Regions from separate parts of the Homo sapiens genome. Here region 2 is reported to be linked to region 1. Evidence: microRNA targets listed by miRTarBase, many of them from high-throughput screens and not tested one by one. Region 1 holds a microRNA gene; the other region holds the end of a gene's coding sequence.

Region 1 (7,000 bases):
TTTCAAATAGCCAACCTTGTGCTTGTTTCTAATAGGATGGGATCCAGATGTCCTCTTTGAATGTCTGGGTATTGCTAATAATTTGTGTTCAAATCTTAATCTGCAGTTACATACACTAAAATGTGTCATTTTAGGTCGCCAAATATGCAATGCCATTTAGACCCTCATACAGTTTTTTTTTGTTTGTTTTGTTTGAGTCTCTTTCTCCCAGGCTGGAGTGATCTCAGCTCACTGCAACCTCTGCCTCCTGGGTTCAAGCGATTCTCCTACCTCACTCTCGAGTAGCTGGGATTACAGGCGTGCACCACTACACCCAGCTAATTCTTTGTATTTTTAGTAGAGATGGGGTTTCACTATGTTGGCCAGGCTGGTCTTGAACTCCCCCATCCACCCGCCTTGGCCTCCCAAAGTACTAGGATTACAGGCATGAGCCACCGAGCCTGAGGGCCTGAGGGGCAGGTTAAATTGTACCAAATTGAATTAATCCTGCTGATACACTAACATATTAACTTTTTCATTTTCTTTAGATGTTGATATATCACTACTTGTGTCTTTTAACAAAATGAAAAAATTGACTACTGATGGGAAGTTAATTGCCAGAGCATTGAGAAGTTCAGCTGTTGTAGAGGTAAGAATCAAGAATAACTACTGTTTATATTTATAGTTTATAATTATAAAGAATGTTAACGTAATGATTATTATATGATTATAGCTTACAATTATAAATAATATTAGTTTTATTAATGTAATATACTATTTTAAAGCTTGATTTGGAAGGCACCAGAATCCGGAGGAAAAAACCTCTGGGGGAAAGACCAAAGGATGAGGATGAACGCACAGTGTATGTGGTAAGCTTAAGAACCCGGGTCCCCAGTCAGAAACTGGCACAGAAACAATATAATTAAGTTAAAAATTTATTGACATTCTGATTGTGAAAAACTCTAATATTGCTTTTAATTTATAATAGGAGTTACTTCCCAAAAATGTTAATCACAGCTGGATTGAAAGAGTATTTGGGAAATGTGGCAATGTTGTTTATATAAGTATACCACATTATAAGTCTACTGGAGATCCAAAGGGATTTGCGTTTGTGGAATTTGAAACAAAAGAACAAGCAGCAAAAGCAATTGAGGTAAGTCCAGATCCTAAAAAAAAAAAAAGAAAGAAAAGAAAACAAGTATTAAAATAGTAACTTTTGCAATCATTTCAGTTTCTTAACAACCCACCAGAAGAAGCACCAAGAAAACCTGGCATATTTCCTAAAACAGTGAAAAATAAGCCCATTCCAGCCTTAAGAGTTGTGGGTGAGTATTTTTCAATATTTAAATAGGTGTAGTTGAAGTAAGATGAACTAATAATGATGGCACTTTTACAGAAGAGAAGAAAAAGAAAAAGAAGAAGAAAGGCCGAATGAAAAAGGAAGACAATATCCAAGCCAAAGAAGAAAACATGGACACAAGCAACACCAGCATCAGTAAAATGAAAAGATCCAGACCCACATCTGAGGGCTCTGACATTGAGTCCACTGAACCCCAAAAGCAGTGCTCAAAGAAAAAGAAAAAACGGGACAGAGTTGAAGCATCTAGCTTACCTGAAGTCAGAACAGGGAAGAGGAAGAGAAGCAGCTCTGAAGATGCAGAATCCCTAGCTCCCCGATCAAAAGTAAAGAAAATTATTCAGAAAGACATCATTAAGGAAGCATCAGAAGCTTCCAAGGAAAATAGAGGTAAAACTACAAGGTTTTAATTAGATAAAACTAATTAATTTTAATTAATTAGTTTTTAATTAATTAGGTTTTAATTGGCTTCTGTTTCACCCATTTCACAGCCCCATGTCTTAACGGAGAGCTTTTTTATTTATTTCAAGATATAGAAATCTCTACTGAAGAGGAAAAGGATACTGGAGATCTAAAAGATAGCTCTCTCTTGAAAACAAAAAGGAAACATAAGAAAAAACATAAAGAGAGACATAAAATGGGAGAAGAAGTTATACCATTAAGAGTGCTATCAAAGTAAGTCTGTGGTTTAAATTCTGTCATTGGCTTAACAATCCATCACCATTGCTAAAGTGCAATTCCAATTTATATTCAACAGAGTTGCATATTAGCAACAGTAATGGCCTGTAGCCAAGAACTGCACACAGTGTGGGCGTTAACGCAATTGCTGATTAGGTAGGAACCACCACACTCAAACATGGAAGCACTTATTTTTGTCATGTCACAGCAAGTGCCTCCATGTTAAAGTAGAGGGGGCCCCTTAACAGATGTAAAAATACAAAATAAAGCTTAAATATATGAGCTGCGGTCAATACAATAAAGTTATTTTCTAAAAAAATAATAAAAATGTAAAAGGAAGACTTACCATCACCAAAACATGGAAGCACTTACTTCTTTAGTTTCAAAGCAAGTACATCCACGTTTAAGTGGTGGGGAGCCCAGTCTTGGAAAAAGTTAGAATCCTTTAACCTGTAACAAGCTTAGTAACCTTAAAACACAATAACAAAAAAATTTTGTAACAAAAGGTGTGCTGGCTTGGAGACACCTCCACTGAAACATGGAAGCACTTACTTTTGTTTCACACAGCAGGTACCCCCATGTTAAAGCAAAGGGGATCCCTTCAAATGAGGTTAGCGTGTTCTATTTTGGAGAAGTAAATTGGATTCACTCCTACTAAAACATGGAAGCACTTACTTTTAAAGTCACAGAAAGCACTTCCATGTTAAAGTTGAAGGGAGCCCACCCAACATACAACTTCTTTGGACTTCAGAGTATTTAGAGCTGAGGAGAAAGAAAACAAAATGGCATAACTTTAGAAGAAAAAAATTTTTTTACCTTCCTGAACTAGTTCCCAAAGATTCGTGTTCTCCTCCAGAAGGGTAAAAGGCAGGGACTTCAGCCACTTCTATTTATACTATTCTTAACTCTTGAATTCCTTTTGCCTTTTTATCTCAGAGAATCATTACAAGGGCCTTTTGTTATTTTAATGTATCAGCTCTCAGGGAATGTATGATCCTGGGTGGGTCTGGATCCTTTTTTTTTTTTTTGAAGTATACAGATGTCAATGTTAACAGCTAAAACCATTACCACAAGATATCTTCCTCTTAAAAAAAAAAAAGAAAAAGAAAAAGAAAATCTCCTATCTGCTTGTTTGATGGCATAGATTAGGGTAACAATGAGTGCTCCCACTGAGCCGAGAAAGGCATTGTGTTTCTATCTGGAGGAACTCTGTTTGAAGAAGCATCTACATGTTAAATGTATGTAAATAAATAGATTGCTTCCACGGGGTGTTTTGTTCTACTTAGAAATTCTTTTTGATTCAAGTAAATACTAAGGAATGTTATCTCTCAAATTGGAAGCAGTTTAACAAATCTTTAATCTCGCCCTTTTCCCACAGAGATGACTGATTTAGTAAATGTTACTAGTTAAGGAATTAATGCTAAAATTTTACTTTTATAAATTAAAATACTTCAGACACTCAAAAATTTAATTGGCAATCTTAAAACATTTAATCTGAATATTGGGGGAAGAGGAACTCCCTTAGCTTATTTTGCTAAATGTCTTTAGAACCTAGGAAATATTTTGAATATGTGTTTAAAGAAACAGGAAAGTTGGTGGAGGAGTTGCTCCAAGTCATTGTGAATGTATATATTTAGATATTTCCCTATTTACTTTTTATATTTAGTCATCTGTTATCACCATTTCTTTCCTTGTAGGAGCGAATGGATGGATTTGAAAAAAGAGTATTTAGCGCTACAAAAAGCTAGCATGGCTTCTTTAAAAAAAACAATATCCCAAATAAAATCAGAGTCAGAAATGGAAACAGACAGTGGAGTACCTCAAAACACTGGAATGAAAAATGAAAAAAGTAAAGATCACTGATAGTTTTGACAACATTATAATGTACTTATATATGTAAATGCTATCTCTGAGTTGTTATAAGATAAATTTTAATTTTAAAAAACTTGATTATTCTATTTCATTATTAGAACAATTCTTGATTTGTTAAGTTATCCAGATGTGTTACTTACTCTTGATATAAGAATATTTAAAAGGCTCATTTAAAACAATTTTTTAAATAACCTGAGTTTTCTCTACAGTTTTCATCAAGCACATGAGTGCAGAGTTTGCAGACTGAGCAAGTTTGTAGGAATGAAGATTGTAGTTTCTCACCTGTTAATTTCATTCTGTAGTATGCACCACAAGCAGGAACAAGTTAAAGCAGAATTCCTATGAATTCAAAATTAGGATACATTTTAAATTCTCATTTCTTGTAAAAATAAATGTTCACGTTTGAATAATAATGTATTTAAAACACAGTATCCTTTAACTTTTTTTTAACTTTATTGAGTAAAAATTTACTGTTCCTTTGTTCAGGGAGAAGGGGCAAATTTAAAGGCTTTACGAATGCTCTTCTAGCAGTAACAATTTGCATGTAGAATAATAAAACTTTCTGAGTTTTATTCATGGTATTTTGAAATAAGCAGTATGACATATAACCTTTAATTGTTTACTTTAAAATTAAATACGTTTTAAATTATTTAAATCTGCCTCAGGAATTATTCTAAGGTAGTCCTCCTAAGTATTAAATTGTTGTTAAGTGTAAGAGATTTAGTCCTGGTCTTTTTCCTTTTCTAATCAGCAGCCAACAGGGAAGAGTGTCGCACCCAGGAGAAAGTTAATGCAACAGGACCACAGTTCGTGAGTGGAGTGATTGTGAAGATCATTAGCACAGAGCCTCTACCTGGCAGGAAACAAGTCCGGGTAATGATTTTGAGCCCCTAGGGTATTTGTTCCTTTCTTCTCTTATTATTTCCCTGTGTGAAAATGTTTTGAATATGGAAGATAAAACAAATCAAGTTAGAATTTGTTTCCCTATGGTAAACTACTGTACAGTTTTAATTCCATGGTAACTCTTAGGTTTAATTTTGAAGCAAAATCTAGAGGCTGAAATTCCTCACTAAATCTATATGTAAGCACAGTTTAAACATCCTTCTCTATAGGAAAATTGTAACTTTTGCTTATTTTTATTGGCACTGATTTTTTTTGTATTACCTATGTGCTGATTATCTTTAAAATTTTAATTATAGAAAAGTAAAATATTTTTGAAAACCTCTTAAAATTTTTCACGCATGTGCCAAAAAACCCATACTTCTATATAATTTACGCTACAAATTGCTGTACATACAGGTTTATAATTTTTTCGCTTTATACAGTCTATCTTCTGTAGCCTTTTATACCACATTGGTAGCAATACTTTCTATTAGGGAAATTATATACTTTTAGGTGAGAGTACCATATCTTATTTACCCTTACCCTGCCTGTCACCCATTTAAGTGAATCCTTTTCTTTTTAAAAAGTGTGAAATGCTCTGTAACATACCACATATTTTAAGTATTTTCTTATACTGACATTCATCATCACTTAGTATGTTGTTTTGGTTTTACGTAGACTCATCAGTCACAGGTTTTAACTTGAATACCATTGAGGTGGTGGTTTGTTTATCTGTAAGCCCTCCTTATCTGAAATACTGTCCTACAATCCTATAGCTGTCACTAAGAAACAAATTTTGATCCTCTTTGCAATGTTGGTGAAGGATTTGGCCAAATCCAAATTGCTATTACCAGCTTGCATTTCAGGAGACAGCTGAAAATTGAGGGATGTAAATACTGCTCTGATTAATCAGATTGCAAAACATTTAATACAAAAATTGCTCAGAGTTATTTCTAATCAACTCATTAAATAACTTCTGTTATTTAAAGGGTAACTTTATCAATTACAAATTCATCATTTATGATCATCAAAATCATAAAATCAATCCCTGCATTAATCCAGTTAGTAGTTACTTACATTTTGCTGAAACAAAAACTGAGCTGTGTTGGTTACAACTGTCTGTGACTTGCCCATGTGATTACCAGGCTAATTTGTCATTCTATGGGTTTTAAATTCTAAGGGTTTTAAATCAAGAGATTAGCCTGACATTATAATGGATATTTAGTATATATCTTTTGAGTTGTAGTAATTGAATATGCTCAAAAGTCAGTTATAAAACTCATTACTACTACTGAATGCATTCAAATTTCAACAATACTGAGTTTTTTACTTGCTTTATATCTAAATTTGGTACTAATTAACTAGGTAAAGAAGTGGGAAGGACTAGCAAGTGTAAGTCTCTGCAGTTTTTTTTTTTTTAATTTGGCAAACAGTTACTAAATGCCTGTTTTGTGATAGTTGCTGAGTGTTGGGATGAGTTAAGATCTAGTCCCTGGCTTCTAGAAACTCACAGATTTTATTATATATTTTTTATTATTAACTGATAAACTTTTCTTATTCTATGATGAAATAATACTTCCAGGTATTGCTCAGTTCTTTCCGTAATTCAAACATCTAAAAATTCAACATCTGAAAGTAATGTAAATTAGTTATGTCTGAAATTTTAGGTCAAAACGAAAGGGAGGCAAGATAAATAAGATTTCCCCCCCCCCCCCATTTAGCAATCTCCAGTTACTTCTTTAGCTTTATGAATGGAAGTTGATGAATTAGGAATTAGTGTAACATTCCTGCATAAATGCATTGTATACTCTGTAAAACCTGCTGTGAAAAAAAAAGTTGATTAAGAATGCAGGAATCTGGTTAATTTGCCCTCACAGCAGGCAGTGTAGGTAAAACTTTTCCTTGCTGGGTGACCACAACTTGTTTAGAAGAGGTTACTTAGGTATTTTTTTCAGAAAGTAAGAGCTCTTGAACAATGTGGAAATCTAGTATTTTAGGTTTGGTTAAACTGTTTTTCATGAGTTGTTATTAAAAGTGGAATGATTTGTACACATATTTTAAAGTCATAGTGATTTTCTACAGGTGAGTAAAAACAAACCTCCCTTAATCCTTTTTTTTTTTTTTAATTTTATTCCTTATACTACTCCCAGATGTGAACGCTTCCTGATTTGGGGGTTGGGGGACACTATTTCTGCTTTCTGCTCTATAAATCTGTTGTCCTTATAGAATATT
Region 2 (7,108 bases), not on the chromosome of region 1:
ATAAGTCAGCAGCAAAGCATGGCTCTGTTTTCCTGACCATACTCCTCCTGGGAAGGACTCATGCTCCAGATGGTTTAGCCAAAAGTTTATCATATTTGCCAGACTGTCTGGACAGGGGTCTTTGTGCTGAAACAAAATACCCACATTACCCACATGATCTGATTCTGCATATCTCAAGTGACTATGGAGTCTTTCTGAGGAATCCTGATGGTCACTACCCTAAAGGATATATAGAGAAGAGCATGGAATGATGAGAATATTCATATATCTTTTCTTTCATTCTTTTCGCAAGAGCCCCTATCATAACCCTGTGCTAGCTTACTAAGATACAACAGAAAAGTAGTCCTCAGCCCCAGAGAACACAGCCTCGAAGAGAAGACAGATGTTAAAAAAAAAAAATTACAATAATTTGGTGTTACAGGAACATGGTTCAGGGTCCCTGCAGGAAATGCAGATGTTCCTTGACTTATGATGCAGTCGTGTCCCAATAAATTCATCAAAAGTTGGAAATATGTGGCCGAACATGGTGGGTCATGCCTGTAATCCCAGCACTTTGGGAGGCCAAGGCAGGCGGATCACCTGAGGTCAGGAGTCCGAGACCAGCCTGGGCAATATGGTGAAACCCCGTCTATACTAAAAATACAAAACTTAGCTGGGTGTGGTGGTGCACACCTGTAGTCCCAGCTACTCAGGAGGCTGAGGCAGGAGAATCACTTGAACCCAGGAGGCAGAGGCTGCAGTGAGCCGAGATTGTGCCAGTGCACTCCAGCCTGGTTGACAGAGCAAGACCCTGTCTCAAAAAAAGTTGGAAATGTGTCAAAAATGCATAGAAAACACCTACCAAACATGATAGCTTAGCCTTGCCTACCTTAAATGTGCTCAGAACACTTACATTTGCCTACATTTGGGCAAAATCATCTGGTAACACGGTACACTGTTCACTGTCAATTGATTATCCTGGTGATCACATGGCTGATTGGAAGCTGTGGCTCGCTGCCTCTGCCCAGCATCCTGAGAGAATATCTTACCAGTTTCTACTGAATGCGTATCATTTTCACACCATCGTAAAGTCAAAAAATCTTAAGTTGAACGATTGTAAGTGGGGAACTGTCTGTAGATGCCACACTCAAAAGGTGTGATTGAAGAGAATAAAGAGACTGTTTAGGAAGAAGCACCCCAGGGTTAGCAATAGTAGGAAATCACTACCACTGCTAAGCTTGAAAGAGCAGTTAGTGAAACCCAGAAACAACTAGAGCTATAGCAGAGGGCTGCCAGATGGGAGAGGTGAGCTTAGATGAAGGCAGCTGCTGCCCTGAAAAGAAGAAACAGGTAGAATAAATGCCTCAATCTTTCTTTCTCCCACCTTCTGGTATCTTGTTAGTAACTCCCATTGGCCAGACCCAACCAGGATCCCAAGGGCAAGGGAGCCCTTTGATGCAGTCCAGAGCCCAACCACCTGGGACACAAAGTAGGTTGGAAAATAGTAGAGAGAAGTTCTGGAGAGGCAAACAAAGAGAGCTTGCACAGATAGGAAGCTACTCAACCCAGACTAGGGGCAAAGAGAGAGGGTATGTCTCCCAGTGAGGATGGCTATATGGAGGAAGACTTTTCCAGGCAGAAGGGTGATGGTATGCTAAGGCACAGGCATATGAGAGACATGTATTCAGGAAGCCACAAGAAATCTAGTATAGCTGAAATTAGGGGACAGGGAGAGGAGTGGTCAGAGATGGGACCAGAGGTTTGGAGGAGAGAATAGGGCTCTTTAATCATGCAGGCCTTCTGTGTGGTGGTGAGAGTTTGAAAAGCAATGGTGGCTGAGCCCAGTGGCTCACGCCTGTAATCCCAGCACTTTGGGAGGCTGAGGCAGGTGGATCACCTGAGGTCGGGAGTTCGAGACCAGCCTGACCAACATGGAGAAACCCTGTCTCTACTAAAAATACAACATTAGCCAGGCTTGGTGGCACATGCCTGTAATTCCAGCTACTTGGGAGGCTGAGGCAGGAGAATCACTTGAACCCAGGAGGCTGAGGTTGCGGTGAGCTGAGATCGTGCTATTGCACTCCAGCCTGGGCAACAAGAGCAAAACTGCGTCTTAAAAAAAAAAAAAAAAAAAAAGCAACAGTAAAGTAGAAAGTGACAAGAGACTTACATATTAAAAAGATTACGTGACTCAACCAGCCTTGTGGAGAATGAATTAAAGACAGATAAGGATACTTACAGCAATCCAGTGAGTGATGGTTGGGGGCAGGAACCAATAGGTCATCTTGCAAACATCAAAGAGGATTTAGCTCTGAGACATATTGAAAAGTTGAAAGGGCCTGGTGACCAATTGGGTGATGAAAAGAAGTATTGGGTTAAATTTTCCATTTATGAAAAATGAAGATTTAGAGCTGCATGTTTTAATGCAGCTGAAACTGAGCACGATCACTATTTGGGTCTCGATAATTCATTGTGGTGGTGGGCTGTCCTGTACATTCTAGGATGTTTAGCACCCATTGTTTCTACCCACTGGATGTCAGTTGCACCACTGTTCCCCTATCATGGCAATCAAAAAATGTCTCTAGATATTGCCACATGTCCTCTAGGAGACAGAGGGCAAAATCATCCAAGTTGAGAACTGACAACCTGGAAGAAAATGGGTTCAGTCCTGGACACACTGAGTATGGGGTACTTGTGAGACATGTGAGAGGAGATGTCAGATTAGATTTGGGCTTAAGTATTTGGTGCCCAAAGCAATGGTCTGGGCTGGTAACTTGGACTTAGGAATTCTGAGCATATAACTGACCTGTACTACACAATGGCCTGAAATATAAGCACAATACACATTTACCACACTATAACTTCTCAAACTCTCCTCTTCGGTGAAATGCTCCCAGCTGCTTTTCCCTCTTGTTGACTTTTATGTCAAGCTACATAGAGGGGGAAAAGAGGGGCCAGGAGGTGGTAGGGGTGACCAGATATTGGATTGAGCTACTCTAAGCATCTAGTTTAAGAGATGGAGGTCTGAGATCAGTGAGTACTTGAAGCTCATCCTGGCTCATAATCCTCTTGTCTTTGTCTCTTATCAAGGCCTTTGTATTGCTCTGGCATCTTCTCTTAGCCCCTGTAGTTGGTATTTAGTTCGAAAGATCTGGAATTCTTAGAACATTGATAACATCTTATAACATGGTATAAACCTTTTTTTATTATATAACAATACTCTGTGACGAAGAGACTATATCCTTGATGCTGAGAACTTTGGAGAACGCTCACCTATTAATTCTGTCAATCATAAAAGAAAAGAACCCCTAAGAAGAGCATAGAGGTACCTGATGAGACCCCTAGTGGCAAATATCTCCTAAAAAGGGATGAGAGTCAATGTTCAAGTTCATTTCTACCAACCTGAGTGATGGCTCTCTTGCTATGATGTAGTTACAGCAGGGGGTGGAGCAAATATCTCATTAGGCAGATTCCGGGCAATAGGTGAAGAGGGGATTCTGGCATCTATGATGATGAAATATAATAGTGGCAGGCACAGACTACAAACTTTTTTGAGCACTTTCTATTTGCCAACTGCTTCTGTGCACGTTAATGAAGGAAAGCACAACTTCAGTTTATTCCACAAGATAAGGTATTTGTAAACAATCATCCCCTAATGCAACGTGTTTATTCAATGGCTAACAAGCTTTCTGAATATATTCATTGAGGAAGAATAAGCCAATTGTTCATCAGATTTGAGCATCTGTATCCTCCCTAAACTTGAATCCTCCATGATGCCTCTTGAAGTAACCCAAACAGATGTGCATCAGAAAGCAAGCTGAAGATAAACAGCTGTTTCTGTATTATACCCAGAATCAACAGTAAATTCCACTTGATGTAAGTCAGCCTGTAGAGATCTAATGAAGCTTAGCTCTTCAGTGGGGTTTCAGTTTGAATTTGGGATTGCCATTGAAAAAATGTCAGCAGCAGTGTTGTCAGTTTCTTTTTTCTTTTTTTTTTTTTTTTTTTTTGAGATGGAGTCTCTCTTACCGCCTGGGCTAGAGTGCAGTGGTGCAATCTCAACTCACTGCAACCTCCACCTTTTGGGTTCAAGCAATTCTCTTGCCTCAGCCTCCCAAGTAGCTGGGATTACAGGCACACGCCACCACACCTGGCTAATTTTTGTATTTTTAGTAGAGACGGGTTTCCGCCATGTTGGCCAGGCTGGTCTTGAACTCCTGACCTCAGGTGATCTGCCTGCCTGGGCCTCCCAAAGTGCTGGGATTACAGGCATGAGCCAAGTGTTGTCAGTTTCTATCGTGGAACCTACACATATTCAGATATGCGGCAATGGTGACAGACAACAGTAAATAAACCATGTGTACATAATAAGCATGAAAATGTGAAATTTCCTTTGACAATCAAATCTTCCCTCCAAAGAACTTAGTTTTTTTTCCCCTTAAGTTTCACTAGGTGTTTACCCTTACAAAACTCATCAATTGCAGTTGGACAGACTTTTTTTCTGTATTTTTCTTGGTCTCCTCCCCAACCCTCTTACTTAGGACAGTATTATTCTGCTAGGACTGCCATAACAAAATGCCACAGACTGGATGGCTTCAACAACAGCAGTTTATCAACCGAAGTTTATTTTCTCACACCTTTGGGGGCTGAAAGCCCAAGATCAAGGTGATTGCAGGGTTGGTTTCTCCTGAGGCCCCCTCCTCGGCTTGCAGACGGCCACCTTCTCACTGTGTCCTCACGTGGCCTCTCTGTGTGCCTTCCACCTAAGTGTCTCTTCCTCTTCTTAGGACACCAGTCCTAGGCCAGGTGCAGTGGCTCATGCCTGTAATCCCAGCACTCTGGGAGGCCGAGGCAGGTGGATCACCTGAGGTCAGGAGTTTGAGACCAGCCTGGCCAACATGGTGAAACCCCGCCTCTACTAAAAATACAAAAACTTAGCCAGGCGTTGTGGTGCACGCCTGTAATCCCAGCTACTCAGGAGGCTGAGGCATGAAAAGTGCTCGAACCTGGGAGGCGGGGGTTGCAGTGAGCTGAGATCACGCCACTGCACTCCAGCATGAGTGACAGAGCAAGGCTCCATCTCAAAAAAAAAAAAAAAAAGGGAAAAAAAGGACACCAGTCCTACAGGATTAGGGTTGCATTCTTATGACTTCATTTAACCTTAATCACTTCTTTAAAGGTCTTATTTCCAATTACAGTCACATTAGGGGTTAGAGCTCCAACATATGAATTTGACGCAATTCAGTCCACAACAGGTACCACCTGTATTCTATCTCTTTCTTCACTCTCCCCACCACCACTCTGTCTCTATTCTCAGGCAGGAGTATTATAGACGCATTTCCATTACTTGTAAACATGTACACATTTGTTAAAGGGTTAGATGCATTTAAGTTGGGCATCAAGCCGCAGGCCAGGAAAGAACTCTAGTCTCTACCACTAGGCAAAGTCATAGATCTCAGGAGAGAAAAAGAATTGGAATTCCCAGGTTACACAGATCGGAAAGCAAGCAGCAGGATAATGTGATGAGATTATAATTTTAAATCCAGAGATAGAAAAGTAAAGGAAGTTTCTTTCATTTTCCTGTCATGCATATGACCCTTTCTTTATTCAAAAGTATCAAAAAGATAGGCTGGGTACGGTGGTTCACACCTGTAATCCCAGTGCTTTAGGAGGCTGAGGTGGGAGGATTGCTTGAGGCCAGGAGTTTGAGACCAGCCTGGGCAATGTGGCAAGACCCCACCTCTACTAAAACATACAAAATAAGCCAGGTGTGGGGGGTGTGAACCTGTAGTCTCAGCTACTTGGGAGGCTGAGGTGGGAGGAGATCATTTGAGCCCAGGAGGTTGAGAATACAGTGAACTATGATCATACCACTGCACCCTAGCCTGGGTAAGAGACTGAGACCTTCATCTCCAAAAAACAAAACAAAACAAAACAAAACAACCACAAAAACAATTATATGTACATATAAGATAACTGAAGAGAAATGCCAGATTCTTGTTATGAAGTCTCCTCAAGTTTCTCATGGAGATTTATTTGGATGGGCATAGCCTACCTCCCAGAGTAAAGTTTGGGTCTCTCTCTCAGGTAGGCATTTCCGATGCCCTAGAATCCATTCCCAGTGGTCTGGCATTGGGTAAAGAGGGGGTGCCGCCTGGAGTGCTGCCAGCGGGCCACAGCATCACCCCAATGCTCCAGGCCAAAACTCTCCATCACAGGCTGGTGTCGACCAGCTGCCCAGGCTGTTGAAGCACCTGCTTCCTCCTGTTGATAGCATTCAGAACTTTCTTCCTGGGACCCAGCTGCATTTGTATGCTCTGAAGGTCCTCATCAGAGCAGAGCAGCAGAGCTTCTAGATCAATCTGCTCTCTCTTGAAGATAGGCAGGAATTCTTCCAGGTGCTGAGACAGCAAGAACACTTCCAGGGGCGTGGCATCGACCACATCTTCCTCCCACTCCACTTCATCGTCATCCCACGGCAGATCATCTTTGAGGCCGTTTTCCTCTCCCTCTTCATCAGCTGCACCCTCATCAGCCTCTGATGCTCCTTGTCTTTGAAGCAATTCACTGGGCAGTTTAAAACCAAACTCTCTCTTGCTATCTGAGATGTCTTCAGGACTCGATATCCTGTTCCTTCTAAAAACAATACTTCCTAGACCTGGACGATTGAGAATGGATTCATGGTGCACACTGCCGTCCTCCTCTGCTGACAACTGGAGCTTCTCTTTGAAGTCCCCTGAGAACGAGTCTTCCTCTTCCTCTCTGAACACTTCCATCACGTTCCTCTGCCCACTTCTGCCTTCCTTCCCCACCTGTTCTGCTGTATCTTTGTTCTTCTTGAACTTGATCTTGAAAGTGTCTTTAATGCCCTTAGATAGTGACCCGAATGTGCCAGGAGCAGAAGCATTTGAAGGGGATGATCTGGAGAAGGTACCCTTGGAAGAAGAGAGAGTCCCGGATTCCTCCTTGCTGTAGGTGTGGGCCATCTTATTTTGGTGCTTCTCCTGGAGCCTCTCACACTCTTTGATCTGCCTCCTGGCATTCTTCTGAGCCTGCTCCTTCAGCCTGGTGACCTTCTTGGGGTTCATGATGTTCTGTGCAGTGGCAGCCTTGTCCAGGAGAGCAACAC

Evidence for each region. Region 1 holds the annotated microRNA hsa-miR-302a-3p (UAAGUGCUUCCAUGUUUUGGUGA, at 2,363-2,385, opposite strand). A microRNA usually pairs through its seed, bases 2 to 8, with sites in the 3' UTR of a target mRNA and lowers its output. Matches are read on the target gene's strand: a 7mer-m8 pairs with bases 2 to 8, a 7mer-A1 pairs with bases 2 to 7 and ends in A, and an 8mer does both.
Region 2: miRTarBase lists ANKS4B as a target of hsa-miR-302a-3p. Seed matches in the 3' UTR shown: 7mer-m8 at 4,974-4,980 and 7mer-m8 at 4,232-4,238.

What each region holds. Positions count from the first base shown.
Region 1 is chr4:112,645,824-112,652,823 of GRCh38, forward strand. MIR302A (microRNA 302a) reads right to left here and starts at 2,428; the gene lies at 2,360-2,428. LARP7 (La ribonucleoprotein 7, transcriptional regulator) reads left to right here. Exons shown (of 13, transcript NM_016648.4): 3 at 528-628; 4 at 765-848; 5 at 968-1,132; 6 at 1,211-1,304; 7 at 1,376-1,726; 8 at 1,867-2,011; 9 at 3,712-3,863; 10 at 4,638-4,759. It overlaps MIR302CHG (miR-302/367 cluster host gene), which reads right to left and starts at 4,228. Exons shown (of 3, transcript NR_146092.1): 1 at 4,169-4,228; 2 at 2,690-2,776; 3 at 897-1,145. It overlaps MIR367 (microRNA 367), which reads right to left and starts at 2,118; the gene lies at 2,051-2,118. It also overlaps MIR302D, MIR302C and MIR302B. RefSeq lists an enhancer at 3,048-3,770.
Region 2 is chr16:21,249,904-21,257,011 of GRCh38, reverse strand. ANKS4B (ankyrin repeat and sterile alpha motif domain containing 4B) reads right to left here. Exons shown (of 2, transcript NM_145865.3): 2 at 3,162-7,108. The coding sequence ends at 6,192. Among named protein-coding and RNA genes, the nearest start is that of ANKS4B, 20 kb to the right of the region's middle.